2 separate regions of the Homo sapiens genome follow, and region 2 is linked to region 1. A link means that fine-mapping ties the variant in region 1 to the expression of a gene that starts in the linked region. Tissue or cell type: whole blood. Region 1 holds a variant in brackets; the other region holds the start of a gene. All regions are shown on one strand. Distances are between the middles of the regions.

Region 1 (8,103 bases):
TTGCCATTGAAAGCAACAGGCTGAACTGGGTAATTCTAGATGATCCAGATGTGGGTGAAGGAAATTCTTCTGTGGCATGCCAAGGAGAAAGGGACTGGAAAAGTCTTCCCGCCCAAAATAGCATGGTGCAAAAAGCACCCAGCTTGGAAATGCCCATGTGAAATGGCCGGTGGCCGCGCAGCTTCCTGAGAATCATTCAGTCTCCCGACAAATATGGGAGGAGGCCACAGTTGGTGCCCCCTGTTCTGGTTGCTGATGAGACAGGGACAATGTGGTTTTCACCCTCTGGGGGACCCACTGCCGAGCTGACAGATGAGTATAAAGCATTGCGCAAATGCAAGGACTCCTGGAGGGGGTGTGGGGACCGTGGGCACCTCGGGCTCACGTAGAAGGAGCTGAGACTTCGTCTCTACTCAGGCAAGTGCCTGGGAATATGGCTTTTGTATAGGGACAGGCTTGACTTCCTCCTGAGTGTGTCCACCTGAGGCAGGAGGTGGCAGGTTGGTGAGGAGGGAGAGGTGGGGATGGTGCAGGCCTAAGGCCTGGAAGAGCACTGGGGAGCCGCTGAGGGACAGGGTGGAATCAGGAGCTAGAGCCCTCTTGGCTGCAGAGTGTACGGCTGAGGCCACCAGCCCTGCCAGACTGTGGAATCCTCACAGTTCAGGAAGCCCAAGGAAGATTGGTGTTTGAGTCACTTAAGGAAGGCCTGGTGTGCATGGCAGGAAGAGGCTCCTCTCCACCCAGGAAAGCCTGCAGAGCTCGGACCAAGCGCCAGCCCCAGGCGCTGGGCCTCCCTAGTCAGAGCCTCGAGCTGCCCTACAATGTCCCAGGGTGAAATGGCCCCCCGTGAACACGGACTTCCCATGCTGGGGTTCTGTTCCAGCTCTGCCTCTAACTCTGCCCGTGGGTGCAGCCCTGCCTCCCTAGGCAGCAGCCTTTAAAGTTGGAGAACTTTAGAAAATTCTCCAACTTTAAAAAGAAAGATTGAGCTGGGACTGGGAGGCTGAGATGGGAGGGTTGCTTGAGCCCAGGTTTTCCAGCCTGGGCAACATAGTGAGACAGACCCTCTTGCTAATGAATTAAAGAAAGAAAAAGAGAGAGAGAGAAAGAGAGGGAGAAGGGGTGGACCCATCTCAATGGCTCCAGTGACTGAGGTCCTTGATGCTAATGGTAGTCCAGACTAGCTTTCTACTTTCTACACTGCTTTCTGGGCTGACTTTCAGTCTTTTTCTCGACCCTGTGCTGAGCCTGGGTTTTATCAAAAAAAGGAGAAAACACACAGGCACATGCACCTTGAGCTGGAGGTGACTACTCCAAGTCACTGAACTTCAACACTACAGAAAGTTTGTCAGATCCCAGAGTGGTGGCTCATGCCTGTAATAGAGCTTCCGGATGCCCAGGCAGGAGGATCACTTGAGGTCAGGAATTCAAGACCAGCCTGGGCAACATAACAAGATCACCTTCTCTACGAAAAATTTTTAAAATTGGCTGGGCATGGTGGTGCATGCCTGTAGTCCCAGATACTTGGGAGGCTGAGGCAGGAGGATCGCTTGAGCCCAGGAGTTCGAGACTAGCTTGGGCAACATAGTGAGATCCTGGTCTCATAAAAAATAAATTCATGAATGTGTCAAAACTCATCTAACTGCTTACTTAAAATATGTGTATGTTACTGTATGTAAATTACACCTCAGTGGAGTTGGTTAAAAAATAATAATGAAAGAAGGAAGGAGTGTAAACTTTGGAAAAGTCTGCAGCTGTCTCTCCTAAAGCTAAAATCCACCAATTCAAGAAGGATCACAGTAGGGTCATGTGTAGTAGCCCCAAACTGTCAGCAATGCCCCTTTCCATCAGTATGAGAACCATAAATAAACGATTGTATATTTACGTAAGAGAGCATCACATAGCTATGAAGTAGAATCACTGACATACACAACAGAGACAGTCTGAAGGATGCACACAGCATGACATCAGACACTACCTGAAGTGTGCACGATCTATGACTCCCTTTACATAAGTTCAAAACCTGGCAACAGGGATCTACAGTGACAGAAGTCAAAATAGTGGTAATCACTGGTGCAGGGAGGTAACTTGACTTGGGGGAGCAGAAGGAGCCTTGGAGGTGCTGGGAAAGGTCCCCAGGTTGACCTAATGTATGGCTGCAAGAGTGTGTGGAAATGTAAATTTCCTTGAGCCCTATACAGGGGCCCAGTGCCCTTTACGATAACAAGGTGCATCTCAGTAACAAAGAGAGAAAGGAAAAGGGAGCAGCCCATGCTTCCCCAGTGCCATTCAGGGTCTAGATTCTGGGCCACCCCTGGCAGCGCCCCTCCTCGCCAGCACTGTGGCTCTGTGCATAGCCCTGGACACGGACAGAATATGACAGAGCTGGAGCCCACACCCACAGCAGATAGGCTGGCAGGGGCGAAGGGGCTACCAGGGGCTGGAGGAAATAAAACTCAAGCTAAGCACAAGGCCGCCCTCCCAGGCAGGGTAGATGGCATGCTCTCTTGGCACTCTGGGCTATAGGATGGGCACCAAACACAGGCCACACTGAAGAGCAGCAGGCCCTTACCTGACTGAACAGTGGGAACCCTGCCAACTGCTCCCTAGCTGAGGGGACAGTGCTGGGGCCCAGCAGAGCCTTGCAGGCATCTCCAGAGAGACCGCAGAAGCAGGCAGGAGCTGAGGGAATCATCTTGGACCAACCTGCCCTCCTCCCACTCGTCATTTTTAGAGTCAATGCCAGGCTACTAGAGGCAGGTGGCCCTGACTTCAAGTCCCACTGGCTCTGCCTGACCCTCAGCTTTCTCATCAGATAATTAGGGATGAAGTTCTCACAAGAATAAGGGAGCATATATAGGAAGCACCTAACCCAGGGCCCAATGTTCACCAAATGGGGAAACTGAGGCCCAGAGAGCAGATACACACACCACAATCCAGGTAGGCCAGGCACAGTGGCTCAAGCTTGTAATCCTAGGACTTTGGGAGGTCGAGCTGGGAGGATTGCTTGATCAATTTCTTCCTCATCCCCTGCTCTGGGGTTTCCAGAATGCAGTCCCTCCCACAGTTGCTCTTCTACTTAGCCCAAACCACCTCATCTCTCCCACCTCCTCTGTCCACACAGCATGTTCCAGGCATGCGCCACTCCCCACAGCACTCTATGTTCAGGGTCTCTCTGTCCCAGAACCCCTATCATCTGAGGCTGGGAAAGGGTGACGGCATTTACCTATGGGGCAAGGGGGCTCCCCATGGTCACGCCTAGCTGCTGCTTTCGTCCTGCGGGACAGTCCCACAGCACAGGTCTGGTTAGGAAGTAACACCAGTGAGATCATTGAGCTCCTTTAGCCCTAGTTTCTCCAGCTGTGAAATAAAACTCTCCATTCTGTCTACTCAGAGGGTGGGGACAATGGGTGTGAAAAGGTTTTCTAGGTGGCTACCTGGAGAGTTGAACATAAAGCAGAGGGCGATGCTGGCTGAGTTTGATTTTTATACCAACTGGACAGAATACAGTCTTCCTCTTTCTTCCTTGCCTCCTGGCTCAGCTGCGTCAGTCTCCCCAGTGTGATCCTGACGTTTATTCCG[T/C]ATGCTATCCTCTACAGGACCCTCACCACACAGAACGCTCCTCCTGGTCTGGGCATGGCTCCTGTTTTGATCGAAACCATTGGTGCACCCCAGAGCCCCCCACTGCCATGCCCACCCCTTTGATGTGGTGAGCTCTTGGCAGCCTCACCCTCCATGCCAGCTGCAATGCATTCCCTCCAGGGAGTCATAAAAGCCTCTGATCTCCAGGGGCCCAGCCACTGCCCTTCCAGACAGTCTTTTTCTTCCCAGGATGGCCAGGTCTCTTTTCAAAACTGGTGGAAGTTCACATGGGTCTTTATCATGCAAATGGCCTCAGAGGTGACCACTCCACACTCCCAAACACCTCAACGGTATTTGATTGACAGCCCATGCCCTTTCTGGTGTCTGTTCTCTCCTTCTGATAAATGGCCCCTTCCTGACAACCCTCCCTGCACATCCTGCCATTCAGTCAACCACGGATTTTAATTTAGATAATACCGACAAGAGAAAAACACAAACATGAAAGTCATCCGCAGTCACTGTCATCTCAGGAATCAATGTATTCCCTGCAAGCAAATTTTTCAGTACATGCACAATATTTTTTTTTTTTTTTTTTTTTTTGAGACAGGGTCTCCCTCTGTCACCACCCAGGCTGGAGTCCAGTGGCGCGATCTCGGCTCACTGCAACATCTGCCTTCTGCATTCAAGCAATTCTCCTGCCTCAGCCTCCTGAGTAGCTGGGATTACCGGCATGCCACCACAGCCCGGCTAATTTTTTTATTTTTAGTAGAGATGGGGTTTCACCATATTGGTCAGGCTGGTCTCAAACTCCTGACCCCAGGTGATCCGCCCACCTCAGCCTCCCAAAGTGCTGGGATTACAGGCATGAACCATCATGCCCAGCCACAAATTTTTGTATACACAAAATTAGATCTATTATCATACATAAGTTTTTAATAATCCACTTTTTTCACCTAATATAGTGTGAATTTTTGCTCATGTCCTTAAAAAAATTACATTCCAGAAGAATCATTAATGACTGCACATGGTTAATGGTTATGGTATAGTCTAGCTGTACCATAATTTATTACAGTCCTGCACATTTAACTTTTTCAGGTTTGGCCAGCATTATAAACAGTGCTGCTCGGAGTCTGATGGCTAATCTTGGGCACATCTGCGATCATGATTGCCTTAGAAAAATTTCCCAGCAACAGAATTGCTGGGGATGAGGTATGCACAATATGAAGGCTTTTGAAAACCAAGCACTCGTGTATCGGGCACCTACATGGCTCACAATTTGTGCAAAATGGGTTAGGGGTAGCAGGCAGAGAAAGAACCAAAGCAAGAGAAATCAGCATTCTGAGGGGGGGGGTCTCTGCACACACCAGACCCAGACACCATGGAAGTGCCACATGGGGAAGGGGCTTCCAAAGCACTGAGCCACCCTGAACGTCAGAGCTGGAAGGGACAGCACAGACTCTAATACAATTCTCTGTATTAGGAATGGGAAAACTGAGGCTCAGAGAGGTGCCACCCAGGAAGGGGGTGACCTCAGTACTGGAATCTTTCCAACATGGCTGTGTGCTTTGCTTGAAGTGAGCCCTGCTCTGGGAGAAGGGCCCGAGGTGGCAGGCCGAGCCTTGATATGAAAGTATAAACCATTTTCCCCCACCTCCCAAGCAGAGGTGGATGGGAGGGGGTGAGGAATGCTGAGGAGGCCTCCAGCCGGCCTCACACAGGTAACAGCAGCAGTAGTGACCCATTTGAGCCCCCATGGTGTGCCAGATGCTGGTCCCAGGACTTTGGGTCTGTTATCACTGAAACCACACACAAAATGAGCGACAGGGGCACTGTGGTTTTGTCAGAGATGCTTGCTCTCATTTGCACAGAAAGGAGTTCATGCAAGTCTTTTTATTATTATTACATGTCACCGCAACAGGGTATTGCAGTGGGGGAAAGAGACTGGACTCAACTCCCCACTTATGCAAGTCTTAATCCAAGTGGAATCTCTTCTCTGGATTTCTAGAGTGGCAGGTGAGGGGGCGGGAAGCCTCTTCTCCATAATGGCAGTGGTTCTCACACTTCAGCGTGTGCCCGATTCTCTTGGTGGGAAAAGGGGGAAGTGTTCAAAATGCACATTCCAGGGCCCTACCCTGAGAGCTTGATGCTGTAGATTTTGCACAGGGCCTCCAAGACCAAATTCTCTTTTTTAGAGACAGAGTCTTGCTCTGTCGCCCAGGGTGAAGTGCAGTGGTGTGATCATAGCTCACTACAGCCTCCAACTCCTGGGCTCAAGTGATCCTCAAGCCTCAGCCTCCCAAGTAGCTAGGACTACAGAAGTGCATCATTACACCTGTCTAATTTTTATTGTTATTATTGTATTTTTGTAGAGACAAGGTCTTGCTGTGTTGCCCAGGCTGGTCTTAAAGTCCTGGCCTCAAGCCCTGCCCGCCTCAGCCTCTCAAAGCGCTGGAATTACAGGTGAGAGCCACCACGCCCAGCCGGAGCCTGCATTCTTAAATGTCCCTGGATGACTACGACGCAGGTTGGTCCAAAGACCCCTCTCTGGGAAGCACTGAAGACAGTGTGGTTGATTTTCACATTGGGATCCTGACAAAGTAACCTGTACTAAAGTTAACACAGTAGATATGAGGCTTACACTGAGAAAGGGTCGCAAATAAAGGGAGGTGACATCAGAATCCTATTACGTACCGACATTCCCCCCATAAAGCCACAGATTTGTAATTCATTCATTCCTTTGCAGATTCCGGGACCTCACAACCGACCTTACGGCATTCGCCCAGTAGATGGCGCTAGCTCATTTTAAACCCCGTTTGTAGACGGTGCCTGAAAGCTCAAGACAGAGGGAGCAGCAGATGCAGAGAAAGGGCAAGACAGAGCCCATTATGAGAGAGGACAGCCACAAACAGAAATGGTCAACACTAAGCAGCTGTCCCGAAATGACGCAGAGGAAACTTAAACCCTCTTAGGGTGTAGTGTGTAATCTGGTGTGTTGGCCCGACTGCCACATTGGCTTTCAAAATCCCTGCTGCCTCCCAAGCCTGGGTTCTGGCTGCGGCTCGGAGTTTGGGAGCTTAGATCTAGGACAGCGCCATAACCAGTAATGACCACAAGATGGCGCTGCTGCACTCAGGGACAAGATGCCTGAGAAAAATCTCAATCTCATAAAACCATCTAAAGGATAAAGAGTGTGGCTTAAAATAGGATCGTGGAGGGAGATGAGAGGCAGAAAGAGAACTGCTGATTAGACTTGCACCCTGTCTCTCAAGTTCATGTTTACGATATTAGTACTAATGCTGCTGCTGCTGCCACTGGTGGCTGCTGTTTACTCAGGGGCTACGGAGTGCCAGGCACTGTGATAAGCACTTTCCGTGCATGGTTTCATTCAAAGTTCATCAAAGCCCTAGCAGGGGAGTCCTACGATGTCTCCACTTCTGAGAGGAAGCATTATTTGGGGAACTAGAGACTGAGACGTCTTGTGCTTTCTCAAAAGAAATGGGGACAGTAATCTAATTCTGAGCACACTGACAATAGACAGTGGGGCTTCCACGAATAAAAGGCTGAAACAGCCTGGACAACATAGCGAGAGCCCCCTCTCTACAAAAATGTAAAAAGCCAGCTGGGCATGGTGGTGTGCACCTGCAGTCCCAACTACTGAGGAGGCTGAGGCGGGAGGTTTGTGCCAGGCACTGATCAAGGTGGTAAGGAAAGACAATTAAAGGGACTAGGGGAGGTCCTGAGGAGCCCACGATAAGCCATGCAGCCAGGGGATCAGTGCTGTGGAGAAAATGAAGCGCACAGGAGTCTATATGTGCCTGTAGGTGTGTTTGAGATGATGGCAGAAGTAAACTGGAGCTGGCATCCATGGCTCACAAGAGCCCATTATTAAATTTTCAGGAATTTTGCGAGTCAGTTCTTGGATGGATCTATTATTGAATTATTAAGCTAACAAAGTATATAAACTTACAAATTATATAAACTTAAAATGAAATTATACTTAAAATAAAGGTAACAAATACTCGCAACTCATTACTTCCTAATTATTTTATATTTTACCATTTTCTGTGCCAAAGGTAAGCAAACTGTTTCTGGGAAGGGCCATTTAATGACTGCGTGAGCCATAAGGGTTCAGTCAAAACTATTTGACTCAGCCATTGTAGCACAAAAGCATTGATAATATAGACTGAGCATCTCTAATCTGAAAAATCTTAAATGCTCCCTAATCCAAATATCTGAAATGCTCCAAAATCCAAAACTTCTTGAGCACCAACATGACACTCAAAGGAAATGCTCATTGGGGCATTTTGGATTTTGGATTTCTGGGTTAGGGCTGCTCATCTGGTACTGCAAATATTCCCAAATCCAAAAACATCTGAAACCTGAAACACTTCTGGTCTCAAACATTTCAGATAAGGGATATTCAACCTGTACTTAGATAAATGGTCATGACTGTGTTCCAATCAAATGTGATTCACAAAATCAGGTGCTGAGCTGGTTTGGTTCACGGGCTGCTGTTTGCCA
Region 2 (8,103 bases), 66 kb after region 1:
TACAAGGAGTGGTAACTTTTTTCCTAACTTTCATTAGCACAAGTGGAAATGAGCTTAGACTTAGCAATAGGATGGGTCATGTTAGACAACTAAAATAGTCAAGCACAAGTTATCAAATATTTCAAAAGCATTATCCAAAAATAAAGGATACAGCCTTTCCTCTTTCAGAAAGAATATATTAAGAACAAGTTTGAAACTCTCTTATTAAAAATTGATTCTCTTCACTGCAACTGATAGAGAAAGTTGAATGGGAAACTTTACGGCTCGAGTCTAGAGATATACAAGGCAATCAACTGAATGATCACTAATATTCTCGGCCAGGCACAGTGACTCACGCCTGTAATCCCAACACTTTGGGAAGCCAAGGTGAGTGGACAGCTTGAGCCCAGGAGTTTGAGACCAGCCTGTGCAACACAGTGAAACCTCATTTCTACAAAAAGTACAAAAGTTAGCCAGGTGTGATGGCATGTGCCTGTAGTCCCAGCTACTTGTGAGGCTGAGGTGGGAGGATGGCTTGAGCCCTGGAGGGAGGGACTGCAGCAAGCCATGATCACGCCACCGCACTTCAGCCTGGGTGAAAAAGCAAGACCCTGTCACACACTCTCTCACATATATACACACTCCATTATATATATATATTTATTTTATGTACTCAAAATACCAGTATTGCAATAAAAATATGCTAACATACATTTCTCCCCACTGTAGAAGTGAATATAACACCAACAGTCTACTTTCACTGGGATGTGCATAGTAGTTAAATAGTTAAAGTCTTAGGTACCCCAAGCAGTAAAAACTGACTCAACACAATATGAAGGGAAAGATCTAAATCACATTGTAAATGAGTTATTTATCATCAAGAAGGTTGGTTTGTTAGTTTGGTATTTTTTACGCTTTCAGTACAGAGTTAGATACTGAAAACTACATCATCTAGGCTAGGCACAGTGGCTCACTCCTGTAATCCCAGCACTTTGGAGGCTGAAGTGGGAGGATCCCCTAAGCCCTGGAGTTCAAGGCTTTAGTGAGCTGTGATAGCACTACCGCACTCCTGCCTGGGTGACAGAATGAGAGCCTGTCCCAAAAGGAAGAAAAAAAAAGAAAAGAAAATTAGCCGGGTGTGGTGGTGTCTGCCTGTGGGCCCAGCTACTCAGGGTCCCAGCTACTCTGGAGGATGGGAAGATCGCTAGAGCCCAGGAGGTCCAGGCTGAAGAGAGCTATGATCACACCACTGTACTCCAGCCTGGGTGACAGAGCAAGACCTGGTCTCAAAAAAAAAAAAAAAAAAAAAAACAAAGAGGAAAGAGAGAACACACACAAAAAAAAACCCAACATCAATCCACATTCACTCAGCTTCTGCCTTTAAGTAAAGGCCTAGGGAACAGTAAGACAACTGAAGGAAAAAGAAGCACAGCTAAATTCAAAGTCACCGTAGGGCAGGTGGGGGTGAGGGGTCAGTGTGAAGGGAGAAATTTTCACTTGTATTCTCTTATTATTTTGCAGGTTGAATCACTTTGAGTGAGTATATCACAAATGACTCATCTAAATACTATCTTACTTCAGGCTGGATAACTGTGTGATTATGAATATCTTGGTAATAAATACTGAATGAAAATTACCAACGAGTTGAAACACAATAATATGTTTAACCCTAAAGCCATGTTGAACAGAAGGCCTTTCCTTTAAGGACGCTGATGAAGGAGAACAGTTCAGGTTCACATAGATTTGAAAACATTTCTGGTTATCTGAGCTTGTTGATGGTCTGGATTCTGAGTAAAGGGGAACTTACTTGTATTAAGATGAAGTCATTCAACCAAGACGAGAGTTGGAAGGCACAAATATTTATCAATTTTCCATGAAGACAATGGAAAGATGATCAGGAAATATGTTTTACATGAAAATGTTAAAGATTACAATTACCACATTCTGAAAGGCAACATATAGTACAAATGAACATCAGTAGCTACAGAAAACTAACAATGGTTAACTTATCCAGAAGATGCAGTGTTTTTCTGATTCTCAAGTTATCAGGTTATATTGTTCATAAGGATCTCACAAAGACAGATCCAATTCAAGAGCTTTTTGCATCTCCAAAGATATCCTGCTTGTTCTAAAAACCACAGGAAGCTATTTAAATTAGAATAAAACTTACAATACTTAATTCTGCCCCTAATTATAAATGGCAAAGAGGTAGGAAGGTCAGCTTGAACACCAAAGAAAGAAGACATGTGGGCCTTTTTCCAAAAGCTTCTGGATAGCTAGAATGATCATCCTTTTAAAAGAGAACATCTCTCACTAAAAGACAAAGTTGTTATATTTCTAAACAGCTAAAGAATAGAGATACAGAGATTCCGTGGCCAGAAAAAAGACTGAGTCCGTTTTAATTTTCCTCAATGACTAATTTGTGTCACAAGTACACAGTCCCTAATACAAGTGGGATTTATAAGGTTAAAAAAAAAAAAGAAAAGAAGAGCCTCTCACATCTGCATATTCCCACTGGAACAAGGAATACTGCTGCCTCTCTAGTGTTAAACCTAGCCACTCCACTGCCAAACTGTGAATTCCCCAAGTCCTTCATTTTTATATTATCCAGTGCCCACACGAGAGCCTGGCATATGCTAGGCACTGAATACAGAGAAATGAATGAAAGACTCAAGTGGTAACAGTGAAAACAAAATTGCATTTCCTCCTCCTGTTTAAGGGATTAAACCAAGAGAAAGAGAAGAGAAAAAGACTCAGGAATTGGGAGTATTTAATGAATTTTGCCTAAAACTTCAGTAATTCTCTAGATAAAATGAAATCATGCTAAACCACTTCATTGTTATACATATAAGAAGAAACAAATACGGAAAATTTCACAATTACGAAACCAAGTTGTTTTGAGGTTTATTTGATACTAGCTTCCTACAGCCTCAACTAGCATGTATGATGCTTATAAATTCTGTACAACCAATGAAAAAAAAACTAATTTAAATCATAGTGTGAAAATCAGGAACAAAATACTAATAGTTTGATAAACAACATAACTATTCCTTTCTCTCTCCCTGTGTTGGAGACTTCCTTAAATCAAACAAAACCACAGTTTAGGTGTGCCAGACTATAAAAATCATTGCTGCTTAATGTTAGTTGTGCTTTATATAACAAGCCTTATCTGCTTCTCACAAAAGTTACCACCCAGAGGAAGGTTTATTTGCAAGAATACTATACAATTTTGCAGCAGAATATTAGAGAATGTTCTGGGTGTTACTTCAATAAGAATTTCCAGCAAATCATTTTCTCCTAATACTGTTCTAGTTCAAATCCACCTACTGCTCAGTGGGGAATGGGAGGCTAAATTCTTAAGGCCATTCAGTCTACTTGGGGCGTGAGGGGGTGTGTAGAAAGCCAACAATCAAACGAACACCCTCTCAAGGCCTGGGTGCTTCTCTGAGAGCCAATGATTGCAAAATGAACAATCTTATTAAGATCCCTAATTAGCCCGAATTCAAAAGCAAGGTAGGCATGCTCCTTAGCTGAGCTAAGGATAAAACTTTCCAGGAAAAATTGAGGAGAAGAAGGTGGCAGGGATGATGGGGGCTGGGAGACTGCAAGGCCACAGGCTTGGTGGCTGGAAGATGACAACTATCCTAAAACATTCAAATGCCAAGGGGTGGAAGAGAAACGATGCCAAGTACATGAATAACCGGCAGCTGACCCAGCTGAGTACCAAACTCAACACCATCTCCTGAAGATTTCATGACTTCGCCCCCGCCCCCCATTCGCCCCCCACCCCCCTCGATTGTTAACATGAAAGAAAAACATAAAGAAAGAATACCTGTCACAGCAGGGCGCACCTTTCAACTAAGGAACTCCGGGTGGCTGTGTAGAACCATCCTCACCCTAGAAAGGGGGAAACTGAAAGAAAAAGCAGAACACGCCATTAACAAGGCCAGAACCCCGACTGCCATTCCTGGACGGGAGCCACCAACACCCGCAAAATCGATCGGTACGTACGCCCCGCGGCGCGGTCGGTAGGAATCACAGCCCCGGGCTCCTGAGGCCAACCGTGGCCGTCGGGGCCCGCCAGCGGCCTGTGCCTCAGTCTCCCAATCTGTAAATGGGGTGGGGGGCGGGAGGGGGACAGCGTCCCGCGCGGCTCCCGCCCCAAGTCCTCTCTCCTCTGGGGGTCCCGATGGTGGCGACCCCGCACGCTCCCCGGACTCGCAGCCCTCCCGGGAAGCCTCGGGGGATGGGGAAGCCCCGGTGGGGGGGGGAAACCCGGGCTGACGTCAGCGGGCTCGGCAACCCGCGGGCCCGGCCGGCTCGGGCCCGGGCAACTAACGGGCCGGCGCCGAGGGCCCGATGGTCGCCGCGGCGGCTCCGGACGCCCTGAGGCCAGGCGGCTGCGCCGAGGGGATCCGGCCGCCCGCCGGCCGCCAGCCGCCCGCTCATTCACTAACCTCGGGCGGCGGGGCGTCGCCCCTCGCCCCGGCTCCCCAGCCCGCGTCCCGGGCCGGCCCCGGCTCCCCACACCCACCGCCCTAGTATTTACCTCCGACGCGCGGCCCCCGCGCAGCCAAACCTGCTACCTGGGCCCGCCCCCACCTGCCCCGCCTCCGAACCGCACAGGGAAGAGGGAGGGAGCGGGGGCGGAGGGGGCAGCCGCCGCGCTAGCCAATCGTAGGCCGAGCTGCGCTCCTGAGCGGGCCGTGATTGGGCCTCCCTGTGACAGACCTTCCTCCAATGGCTGCCAGCCCGGCGCCGGCCGAAGGGACTTTCCGCTCTGTCAAGCTCGGTGGAACCAAAGGGAAAGCGAAGGGGCGGGGCAGAGAAGAGCGGCGGATGGAGGCGGGAAGCTCAAGCTGATTGGGCGAAAGGCTGTGGGTGCCGCGTCACCATTGGCTGATGCTGGAGCCGGGGCGGGGCGCTGCGCTGCCACCAGCTCCGCCTCCCGTGCTCCCGCCTCAGCTGTCAAAACTGTAGACGCTTAGGTTTGGGCTGGGTTAAGAGTCCAGATGAAGGTTGAAATAGGATTCCAGGATGCCGTGAGAGAGCAAAGCTTTAGAATCAGACCTCAGTTTGAATCTTTGGCGCTTTCATTCAGTGGCTGCGTGACCTGAGGAAGTCACAACCACGCTGAGCCTCAATGTCCTCATCTGTAAAATGGAGATCATAGTATCGGTTGTCTTACAGGATTGTGGCAAAATACCGAGCTAAAGTTCCTGGCACGCAGTACCAGCTCAGGAAAGGTTCATCTCTTCCTCCTCCGCAGATTCAGCCTGGGACGCTTGCTGTTTCCGAACCTCTGTTGCCACCTATCCCAGTTTGGAGGGAATTTTCCCAAGGATGGTGAAGAAGGGATTTCCACACGCCGCCTCACTCAGCCCCGCACCCCTGGCCACCAGCCAGGACTTAGGGTGTAGTTAAGGATCTTTCAATTAGAAGGGAGGCTTCTGATTCCCAAAAGCACTCAAAATATTTAAGGAAGTGCTTTTTATAATCAGTCCTAGAGCCTTGCTGCACTGGATACTCCTGTTAATTAATTTCTTCTCCTTTGACATTTTAAGTGCTAATTATAGGAGAAGGTGATTAACACTGAGAAAGGAGGAGGGGTGTGTGTGTGTGTGTGTGTGTGTGTGTGTGTGTTTTTAATCATGACACAAATTTCCCCCAGTGGAAAGTGACATGTTTCTGGAGATCCAGGGAATTTAAACCAATGAATACATAAAAACAGTCACATGAGTGATGACTAACAGTAGCAGTAGACAGGCCACCACTCTTCCTTGCCATAGTCATCCAAAATGAAATGAGCATCTTTTGAAAACCTAAGCCTCATTCTACTCCTGTCCCTCTTTTGTCACTCCTATCTTCCTGTTTTCCAGGCTTCATGACCACACTGCTGTAGGAAGCCATAAGTTGGAAATCAACGGGCCTGGCTTGAAGTGTGGCCTTAGGCAACACCGTTCTCATCTACATCTGGATTCTCCAACAAAGCTGGTAGGACTCAGAGGTCACAGTCCAACTGTCTGGAAGAAAATTTCAGCTGAAATTTGTTTTTGCCTAACCCATACGATAAGGAGGAAGGAGAAAAGAATGTGAAGGAGAGAGATTTGGGGTCCTTTTAGGCAAGGCAAACATTCTCATGTTACCACTGGGACCACTTCTCTTATCTGCACGATCTACATCCACTGGTCCCTTAAGGCATCTGAGTTTGCCACTCTGGACTAGAATATTTTCATGTCCCTTCTTTTTGTTTTTGTTGTTGTTGTTGCTGGGGTGTTTGTTTGTTTGTTTCTTTGTTTTGAGACAGAGTCTTGCTCTGTTGCCTAGGCTGGAGTGCAATGGTGCGATCTCAGCTCACTGCAACCTCCGCCTCCCAGGTTCAAGCAATTCTCCTGCCTCAGCCTCCCAAGTAGCTGGGATTACAGGTGCCTGCCACCACACCCAGCTAATTTTTGTATTTTTAGTAGAGACAAGGTTTCACCATATTGACCAGGCTGGTCTCAAACTCCTGACCTCAAGTGATCTGCCTGCGTCAGCCTCCCAAAGTGCTGGGATTACAGGCATGAGCCAATGTGCCCGGCCTATTTTTGTGTCCTTTCTGTTGATGGTGTTTGGTGCTGCTGAGGTCTCTACTTCCATAGGGCTTTCGTCCCCAGGCTCTGTCCTGTCATACGTTCACTGAATCAGTGCCGGGGCCTGACTTCATCTAAGGGATCTTCATCCAAGTCAAGCCTGACAAATGGGGCTTATCTCAATTATCATTTCCTATCAATTGGGAATGGCTGCTTAGAACATTGCGTTAAAGCTAATTCTGAACTTATATTCAGGCTCACCGGGAAGAGAGATATCTGCCAGGGGATAAGATGGGGAGATAGTGTCATGGTGCTATTATTTGCAGTCCTTGGTGAACCAGCCTCTCATTTTACAGGTAGTAGATGAAGGCCCAAAGACAGTAAATTACAAGCCCCTGTCACTCAGGAGATGGGCCGAGACCCTGATTCCAAGCCAAGACTCTTTCCACCTCTGTTAAAATGGATTCCCCAACTGAAATGCTCATCATCTCTGCCTTCCAAATCCTCCCTTCATGGAGGACCTAGTCAAAGTCCTTTACAGACATGTCTTCACAGAGGGCTCCAGCCCTCACTAATGACCTCTCTCAATCCACCACCCCACAGCCTCTTCCATCCAGCCTGGTCCTGGGTTCATGGAACTAGCGGTTGTGTTACTGAGCAGGTTCCAGGAAACATAGCAGTGTACAAGAGAGATGCCACACTCCCTCTGGCAAAAAAAAAAAAAAAAAAAAAGGCAAACTAAAATACTCATTAGATGATCACTTACTTAATTATGGCTGTGGTAAGCCTCAGAAGAAGAATCTCTCTGAGCATGCCTAAAGGGAGGTTGGCCACTCAGGGAAGGCCTGTTTGAGGAAGTCACCTTTGAGATGAGATGGGAAAGATAACTGGCAGGCAGGAGTGAGGGGGAACACTCCAGAAATAGGAAACAGGAAAGTGCATGACCTGTTGAAGAAACTGGAAGAGGCAGAGCGCAGACAATGAAGGCACAAAAGAGCCTTGGGAGCCAAGGACAGGGGTTGTTCTCCATCCCAAGAGCAATGGGAAGTTGTGAAGGGTTTTGCAGGGAACATAACACTGGTTCTTTTTTTGTTTTTTGTTTTTTGTTTGAGATGGGGTCTCACTCTGTTGCCTAGGCTGGAGTACAGTGGCACAATCATAGCTCACTGCAGCCCCCGTCTCCTGGGCTCAAGTGATCCTCCCACCTCAGTCTCCTGAGCAGCTGAGACTACAGGTACGCACCACCATGCCCAGCTAACTTTTCTCTTTTGAGTAGAGATGAGGGTCTCACCATGTTGCCCAGGCTGGTCTTGAACTCCTGGCTTCAAGTGATCCTCCTGCTTTTGCCTCCCAAAGTGCTGGGATTACAGGCATGAGCCACTGTGCCTGACCTAACACTGATTCTAAGCTGTCTTATGTAGTTCTCTCATTGCACACAGCGGGACCCTAACATAAAGCTATTGAATTGAATGGAGCTTTCCCCACGGAGGACGGTGAACTCCAGGTAGCCTGCTAGGGGCATGGGACATAGAGTAACACACCGTCAGGACTC

Evidence for each region. PIP is the estimated chance that this variant, and not a neighbour inherited with it, causes the effect.
Region 2: CYLD starts here. The variant in region 1 is fine-mapped to the expression of CYLD in whole blood (TOPMed, PIP above 0.99).

What each region holds. Positions count from the first base shown.
Region 1 is chr16:50,804,978-50,813,080 of GRCh38, reverse strand. It overlaps LINC02168 (long intergenic non-protein coding RNA 2168), which reads right to left and starts at 6,409. Exons shown (of 2, transcript NR_146573.1): 1 at 6,274-6,409; 2 at 5,452-5,663. RefSeq lists enhancers at 3,004-3,113, 2,940-3,939. The variant T/C (reference allele first, on the strand shown) is at 3,583.
Region 2 is chr16:50,738,550-50,746,652 of GRCh38, reverse strand. It overlaps CYLD (CYLD lysine 63 deubiquitinase), which reads right to left and starts at 4,567. Exons shown (of 19, transcript NM_001378743.1): 1 at 4,529-4,567; 2 at 3,812-3,891. CYLD-AS1 (CYLD antisense RNA 1) reads left to right here and starts at 3,906. Exons shown (of 7, transcript NR_184279.1): 1 at 3,906-3,982; 2 at 5,249-5,325; 3 at 5,859-5,973. MIR3181 (microRNA 3181) reads right to left here and starts at 4,348; the gene lies at 4,276-4,348. RefSeq lists an enhancer at 3,813-3,912 and a silencer at 4,153-4,752.